Linked DNA regions of Homo sapiens: regions 2 and 3 are each linked to region 1. The links come from fine-mapping of genetic effects on gene expression. A gene starts in region 1. Each other region holds a variant in brackets. All regions are shown on one strand. Distances are from middle to middle.

The links.
Region 2: its variant is fine-mapped to the expression of EREG in whole blood (INTERVAL, PIP above 0.99).
Region 3: its variant is fine-mapped to the expression of EREG in whole blood (TOPMed, PIP 0.98).

The regions. Positions count from the first base shown.
Region 1 is chr4:74,364,114-74,366,883 of GRCh38, reverse strand. It overlaps EREG (epiregulin), which reads right to left and starts at 1,739. Exons shown (of 5, transcript NM_001432.3): 1 at 1,509-1,739. The coding sequence starts at 1,575. LOC105377276 (a long non-coding RNA gene) reads left to right here and starts at 1,543. Exons shown (of 3, transcript NR_188415.1): 1 at 1,543-1,733.
Region 2 is chr4:74,260,973-74,263,742 of GRCh38, reverse strand. All of the region lies in intron 6 of MTHFD2L (methylenetetrahydrofolate dehydrogenase (NADP+ dependent) 2 like), which reads right to left. Among named protein-coding and RNA genes, the nearest start is that of EPGN, 46 kb to the left of the region's middle. The variant T/C (reference allele first, on the strand shown) is at 1,424.
Region 3 is chr4:74,329,343-74,332,112 of GRCh38, reverse strand. LOC105377276 (a long non-coding RNA gene) reads left to right here. Exons shown (of 3, transcript NR_188415.1): 2 at 1,809-1,915. Among named protein-coding and RNA genes, the nearest start is that of EPGN, 22 kb to the right of the region's middle. RefSeq lists a cis regulatory region at 1,327-1,626. The variant C/G (reference allele first, on the strand shown) is at 1,317.

The DNA.
Region 1 (2,770 bases):
ACTGGGAAAACAGAAACTGACCTAACTCATTTGGAAATGGGCTTGGCAGCTGACGAAATAGATGAACTATAATTAAGTAATGCAATGAAGGAGGTAAGCACTTTCATGACAACAAACACACACACAACACACACACTAGTGGGTAGTAACCAGGTTATTCACAGGCTCTGGCTGTCTCAAATTAGAATATTCAATGAAACACCCAGAACAGACATGTGCATTGTTCAGATGCAACCTTACATGTGGGGAAAATAATAAGTGCTAAGTTATTCTGACCTCGAGGTTAATTTCTAACTCTAGGAAGACTGTCACCTTTCTAATTTAATTCTTTTCAAAACAAAGACAGCAAAGCCACATTGTTTACTGAGAATCTTCTAGCAAGTCTTTCTTAGCTCAGTTTTGGCAGAAACCACATATCTAGTTTCCACTTGTGTTCCTGGACTTAGACTTGTAAGTTTCAATTATGCATAGTATGCATTTCATTAGGTCTCTCAACCCCTGAGATAAGGTGTGCCAAAATAATAATTTAACAGTCACATCCTTCACAGGTAGAGTTAGAGTGTCTGGGGAATCAGCCTCATTCCAACTCCAGGGAGAATATGAGACTGGTGGTAACTTTTATTTTTTTATTAAGATATTCATATACGACTTCAAACTCTTTCAAATTCCTTAAACTGAAGTTTAAGGAATTGGAAAGAAGTAATTTTTTTTTAACAGAAAGGCTATTTAGAAAATTTTTCCCCTTGAACTAAATCATCTCAAATAGGAAGACTGGCATTTAAATACCCTCAGCGATCACAGGCTATGGAGTGCAATTAGCAGCAAGTGCAGAACGCTTGCTCCAGAGGCTGCTTGGGAGGCTGCAGGGAAAAACGCAAGCAGCAGGTGTAGGGGCGAAGGGCGGTGGGGAGCGCCAGGACCTGCCCAGGGCCCTTCTGCTCCAGATACCCTCGACCAGTGTTTTATTTCTCTTGTGTCTGGAGCTCAGCCAACTGGCACTGGCGCATACCAGCTCCTCCGGGAAAGCTAAACCAGGCTAGGTTTTAGAAAACTGAGCGCAAGACAGAGGAGAAAAGCTTTTTCCCCCCTCCAAAAAATTTCTTACGCTAGTTTCTATTCCCCACTCTCCAACAAAAAGGAACAAGACATGAAATGTTAACAGTGCGTTCCAGGCCTTTAGATTTCTAGGACTGGCAACTTTTCAAAAAAAAAAAAAAAGCTTTTTCAACAACTTTTTATTTTGTTTAATAAGGAGATATTTCAATCCATGCATAACATATATGCCAATAATTAATTCACCAATAAAAAGCATTTTAACATCGATCCCCAGTCCCCCCCACCCCAGTCCCACCATAGGGGAAGACAGACTCACAAAACAAGACGTAATTTTAAATAGAGCACACTTGAACCTGGAGACAACTCCGTACTTGTCGAATGACAAATGCACAGGAGCCTTCCTTATTTGTCTCCTCTTTGGGGCGGCCGGAAGCCAGAGGGGGAGAACTTACCCAGGCAGAGCAGCAGCGCAGGGACCCTGCCGGCACAGAGCATCTCCATCCTCCTCCCCGCGGTCATCGGCGATGGGAGCGGGCGCTGGGGCTTGGCGGAGGGCGGCTGCGGAGAGTGCACGGGCAGGGCGGGAGCAGACGGGCTCGCGGCAGTGGCTGGAGAGCGGCTGTCAGCCTAGAAGGGACCCCACGTTGGCTGTGTCCCTCTGACACTGGAAATATCAGGCAAGTGAGCTCAACTGTCTGGTGCTGCGAACTTTATACTAGGGAGCCCCTCCCGGGCCCTAACGGGGTGAGGTCAAGAGTGCCCAGAGTTTCATAATTGGCCCGAGGGAGGAGCGGCAGGAGGACCGTCAGGAAGTCATCCTCCCTCCCTGGAGCACCTGAGAGTAGTGGTTGAGGAATGAAAAAATGTCTTTCCGATTGGCCGGGGACTACTCCCGAAACTTTTCCATCTCCCTCCGGGAGGTGGGGAGCGTGGACCAGATGGCTTGGTTTGCTTTGTGGGGTCACCTGCCCTGTAGTGGGTGGTTTTGGTTGCTCAGGGTGACGGACATAACTTGAATCAGTCTTTTAGCCAAGGCTGGCGTTCCCCATACATGCCTTTGGAGAGCTGTGCGTGTGACTTACTAACCTCAGCCACGAAAACTCCCTTAACTTGAAGTCTGTCAGTGATTCAAGCGCCCTCCTTGCATTGAAACGCCACCGCCCAGAAAAGCCTTTCCCATCTGCGCCTTCCTTCTGAGACCCCTGCTTCCAATGTGGCTCAGGCATTTATTACCTCAAAGTCGAGTCATTGTGAAGAAAATTCCTGTTATTTTTTTTCCTTCTGTCGTATTTGCCATTTGTCAGGTTGCTGCTTTTGATATGACTTCCTACTAAGTAGTGCCTTAATCCTGTCGCTCCCCTGCACAAAACCTTTCAACGACTTCCTATTGCTTTTTGGACAAGGCCTGCCACAAACGTGAAGCCAATCGGTCTTTTCAACCTCAGCTCCCACTATTTCCCCAGGCAAATTGTCTGACCCCAGCCAGGCTGGAAAACTCTAAGCCTTTCCTCACTCCCACTTTCCTGCCTATGCTGATGGAGTCGTACTTTGAGGCAATGGCTACTTTTTAAAGGAATTAGTGAAATCCTGCTCAAATTCATGGTTCTCCTCAAGGGCCTGGGCTTCTTAGGCTTGTGGATCTCTTTTCATTCTGATCTCTTATAGCTTTTGTCGTTTATCTTCTCCCTAGCCTCATAGAATTCTAGACCCGGTA
Region 2 (2,770 bases), 100 kb after region 1:
ACCCCACAGTCTCAGCCAGAAAGCTTATTAAGCTGAAAAACAACTTCCTCAAAGTCTCAAAATACAAAATTAATATGCAAAAATCACTAGCATTCCTATATAACAACACCAGTCAAGAGCCAAATCAGGAATGAACTCCCATTCACAATTACCACAAAAAGAGTAAAATATAATACCTCAGAATACAGCTAATTAGGGAGGTGAAAGATCTCTACAAGGAGAACTACTAACCATTGCTCAAAGAAATCAGAGATGACACAAAAAAAATGGAAAAACATTCCATGTTCATGGATAGAAAGAATCAATATCATTAAAATGGCCATACTGCCCAAAGCAATTTATAGATTCAATTTATAGATTTTAGAATGTTGACATTCTTCACAGAACTAGAGAGAACAATTGTAAAATTCATATGGAACCAAAAAAGAGCTCAAATAGCCAAGGCAATCTTAAGCAAAAAGAACAAAACTGGAGGCATCATGCTACCCGACTTCAAATTATATTTACAGGGTTACATTAACCAAAACAACGTGGTACTGGTACAAAAACAGACACACAGACCAATGGAACAGAATAGAGAACGTAGAAATAAGACAGCACACACACACACATAAATATACATACATATGTATACATATATACACATATATATATAGGATTACATTTGGATTAAAATTTTGAAACTACTAAGGTGTAACTGACATACAGAAAGCTGTCCATATTTAATGTAAACAACTTGGTGAGTTGAGAGATAAGTACACACTCTATTCCTCTATTGGTGAATGTTTTAGCTGCTTTCAATTATTTACTATCACCAACGAGCTGTAATACAGATTTCTGAATATACAGGTCAGGTATTTTTAGATATGTGGAAAAATAATGGAATCTCTAGGTCATATGAAGTGCACATTTTCAGATTTCATAACATTGTCAAATTACCTTCTAGAGGGACTATAATAAAGCATAACTTCATCAGCAGCATATGCAAGTATGTGCTTCCCTGGATCCTTGCCAACATTTGATATCATCAAGCTTTTCATTTTTTGCCAATCTGATGTGTGCAAACAGTGTCTTGTTTTGCTTTAATTTGCAATTGTCTGATTATCAGTGACATTGAGCAATTTTTACATGTGTATTAGCCATTTAAATATCCTTTCCTATAAATTGTTCTTTTAAAAGTTAGGTTTTTGTATTTTCAACCATATTTTTAAAAACATATTTATATATGCTGCATACTAATTCTTTGTTATGTATAATGCAAATATTTTCTCCCAATAAAATGCTAAAATTTTAACTCTAAGAGGCACTTGTTCCATAGATTTTAGGAATTATATATATATACCTCCAGCTTTTCTGTTTATTTTTACTCACATATTTGTCTGTATATTTGTGTGTATCTTTTCTAAGAAAATCCTACCTGCTC[T/C]AAATTTATGACCAAGTTCTATTAAGTTCTCCAATAATTTTTATTTTTGTTGTTTTTAATTTATGTTCTTTATCTCATCTGAAATATATTTGTATGTATGGGGTGAGTAGGAGTTTAACTAGATTTTTTTCCTAAATGGGAAGTCAAATGTTTTAATACTATTGATTGAAGTATTTAGTTTTTCCCCAGTGTTTAATGACACTACCCTATTTACATAGATTCACACATACGAATGTGTGTTTGTTTTTTCATCCTTCCCCATTATTTGTCTTTTCTTATGCCTATGCTTTAATTTTAATTACCAGTTCTTTATAATATGATTTGAGACAGAATAAAATACTACTCTGTTCATAATAATTAACATTTGTTGAGTCAGTCAGCGTTCTAAGTGCTTTACACGTATTATCTCTATTTGACCTTAGAACAATATATGATGTAGATGTTATTATCCCTACTTCGGAGGTAAGGAAACTGAGGAACAGAGAGCTTGAGTAACTTATAACTTAGGTAGCAAGCTCACACAACTTGCAAGTGGGAAAGCTAAGAAGCAGAAGGAAAAAGTCTTCTTACGCTTTTTCTTCCAATTAATCTTTATTCTTATAAATATGTGGATGCTAATAATAATTACAAGTTGCTAGGCATAATTTTGAACTATTTCAAATAAATCATGACATATGGTCACATTATTTATAAGATAATGCTTTTGTGGAATAAATCTTTCCACTCCTGTGCAAAATCATGAGCCTTTGGATGGTATGGAATTTATTGCTTTATTTGGCAATAATAGCATTCTTACGTGAATAAATTCTCCCACGCAAAAACATGGGTTAGAGCTCTACTTGCTCAGACTTTTCCCTTTGATTATATATTTGAAAAGTTCTTTCTATATTCTTGTTTCTGTTTAGTTTTATTCCAATGAATTTTATAGTTTTATTACTACTGTGAGTGGAATATATTTTCTATTACATTTTCTAATTATATATTATTGATATCTGTAGATACTACCTACATTTACGTTGTTATTGTATTCAGCAACCTTGCTGAACTTTCTCATTAGTTCTAATATTTTATCAGTTGATTATCTTGAGCTTTATGGATAAACTATCATACCTTCAAAGAACACCACCTCGTCTCCTCTTAGAAGTCTTTGTCTCCTAACTCATGTCTGTCAACTTGTTGCATTAGCCAGGAACACCAACAATACAATGCTGGAAAATATAAGTAATAGTTGTTATCTTTGTCCCACCTTTATATAAATGGGAATAATTCTAGTGTTTTACAACAGAGTATATATATATATATTTTTTTCTATTTATTTTCAGTTGATACCCTTTATTAGATTTTTTT
Region 3 (2,770 bases), 35 kb after region 1:
CCCAAGGTTCATGTATTGTAAATGGTGGCACCAAGAAACCCAAGCTTTGTAGCACTGGAGTCCCTGCTTTTAGTTTCTCTCCTATTTTAAAAGTGATACATAGTACTTCTCCTTAAGACATAAATATTTAATGATATTAATAGTTAACTATATCTTTTACAGTCATTCTTAGTTTTTATAATTTTGTAACATGGTCTCTTTTTAGTCAATATCTTTGTTCTTTATTTGAACAAGACAAGAATTTAGCACACCGGAACTCCTTTCTAAATTTTCCCTCCAATCTTCCTTTATTATTGTTGTCTGGTGTTTAAGTTTCACATTGTTAATTTGTAAATGTTGTCACAAATTAATTTTAATTTCTACTCAATTGACAAACACATATCTCTGACTTCCTTGCTCATCACTGATACTTGCATGGTATTTTTTTCTCCTGGGTTCTTGTTTCATCTTGCTGAAATACATTCACTGGCAGTCTTCAGTATCGTTTAGAGGTGATATGGTTTGTCTCTGTCTCCCTACCCAAATCTCATGTTGAATTGCAGTTCTCAATGTTGGGGGAAGGACCTGGTGGCAGGTAATTGGATCATGGGGGTGCATGTCCCCCTTGCTGTTCTCATGATAGTGAGTGAATTCTCGTGGGATCTGGTGGTTTAAAAGTGTGTGGCACTCCCACTTCTCTGTCTCTCTCATGCCACCATGTAAAGACATGCTTGCTTCCCCTTCACCCTTCCACCATGATTGTAACTTTCCTGAGGCCTCCCCAGGCATGCCTCTTGTACAGCCTGTGGAACTGTGAGTTGATTAAATCTCTTTTTATAAGTTACCCAGTTTCAGGTAATTCTTTACACCAGTGTGAGAATGAACCAATACAAGAGATATTAAACTCTTAGTCTTTTGTAGATACAGAATATTATAAGCTCTACGTTCTTCAACTTAGACTTTGCTGGGAAGGACAATAGGAGTTTACAAGCCCTAAGGATGAGTTTAATGGGGAAACTTGAAAAAAATTAGAAGACAACTACCATTAGTCTTTGGAAAGGTAAACCTCTGATTATAACATAGATTATATAGAAAAAAGAAAGTAAGCAAACATTAACCGGTGAATTACTACAAAATTACATTAAATTTATTGTTTGTTTTCTTAGGATCTCACTGTGTCACTGCAGTGGGATAATTTAGGAATCAGAGAGACTGAGGGGCCGGAGAGGATATATATTATTTATTATTTAGGTGCACTGGCCTAGTCAGATTAGCATCCAAAAAGACTGAGCCCCGAACAAAGAGTGAGGTTACCTTTTAAGCATTTCATGGGGCAG[C/G]GGGAGATCTTTGCAGGGGGAAGCATATTACAGAAGTGAGAAACAAAGACCGTTATTCAATTGAGACACTCATTACATTATTTCTAACTTTTCAAGGAAAAACATGTTTTACGACTTGAGTTTATCTGCCTAGTAACCTTGCAACTGCACAGTTAGAGAAACAGGATCTTCGCAATGCCTGGGAAAGAGAGAGATAAGACTCACAAGCCACAGACAGAAAAACAGGCGTTAATTTTTAAAGGACTCCACCTCTTTTTCTTTCTCAGGGGGAATTGGGTTTTTTTACATACAACTGAGTTTTCGCTTACACGTTCTTTAATTTCTTTTAATTCCTGTTTCATCACCAGGCTGGAATGTAGTGGTGCAATAACAGCTCACTGTAGCCTCGACCTCCTGGGCTCAAGCCATCCCCAACCTCACCCTCCCGAGTAGCTGGGACCACAGGCGTGTGCCACCACACTCAGCTAATTTATTTAAAACAATTTTTTTTAGAGATGAGGTCTCCCTTTGTTGCCCAGCTGGTCTGAAATTCCTGGTTTCAAGTGACCCTCACACGTCAGCCTCCTAAAGAGGTGAAGTTATAAGCATGAACCATTGTGGTAAGTCTTTGTTTGTTTTTTATATTATCATCATAAAGTTGAGTTTCTCTTTCCATATGTTTGCTAAGAAGAATAAAATAATTTATAAATTTGGTTGATTTATAATCCTGAGTCACAAAATGTTTGTTTAAAAAACTATATCTGTTAAAATATTTGTCCTAGAAAACTTTGCATTTAAACTTTGTCTGTCCTTGAAAAAAATGTGAAATTAACTTGTTGTATAGACCATGGTTGAATTTTTGTAGCTTCAATTATACATAAGTGGTTTGAGTTTACTTGTTAGAAATACCAAGATCCTTTGTGGCTGTGGCTGAATGTCTATTTTTTTGTTTTTACTATCAAAGGTGGTAGAATTCTATGTTAACAGAGATTTCCCCTGAGTATTTTGAACACTTTATTCCATTGTGTTATGGCATCTACTTTCACTGATGAGAAATCTACTGCCATTATAATTAACTAGTTTTCTTTTTTAGTAATATTTCTTTTTGTGTGTATGGCTTTGAAGTTTTTAAACTATGTTTTTTAAACTAAGTTTTAAGACTATGAATACAACTTCAATTTAAAGATTTATATCCTGCTTTCATTCTGAAAGTTCTCAGCCATTATCTCTTAGATATTTCCTCTAACCTAGCCTTTCCTTCTGGAACTCATGTTGGGCTTTTTTTTTTTTTCTGAAATTTTCATGCTTTACATCTCTTTACTTTGTGATGCATTCTAGCTGATTTCTTCAGATCATCTTCCATATTTCTAATCTTCTCTTCAGCTGTGCCTACTGTAGTACTTATTCTACTTACAAGATATGTTTTTAAATACTGAAGACTGTATTTTTAACTGTAGGATTTTTACTTGTCTATT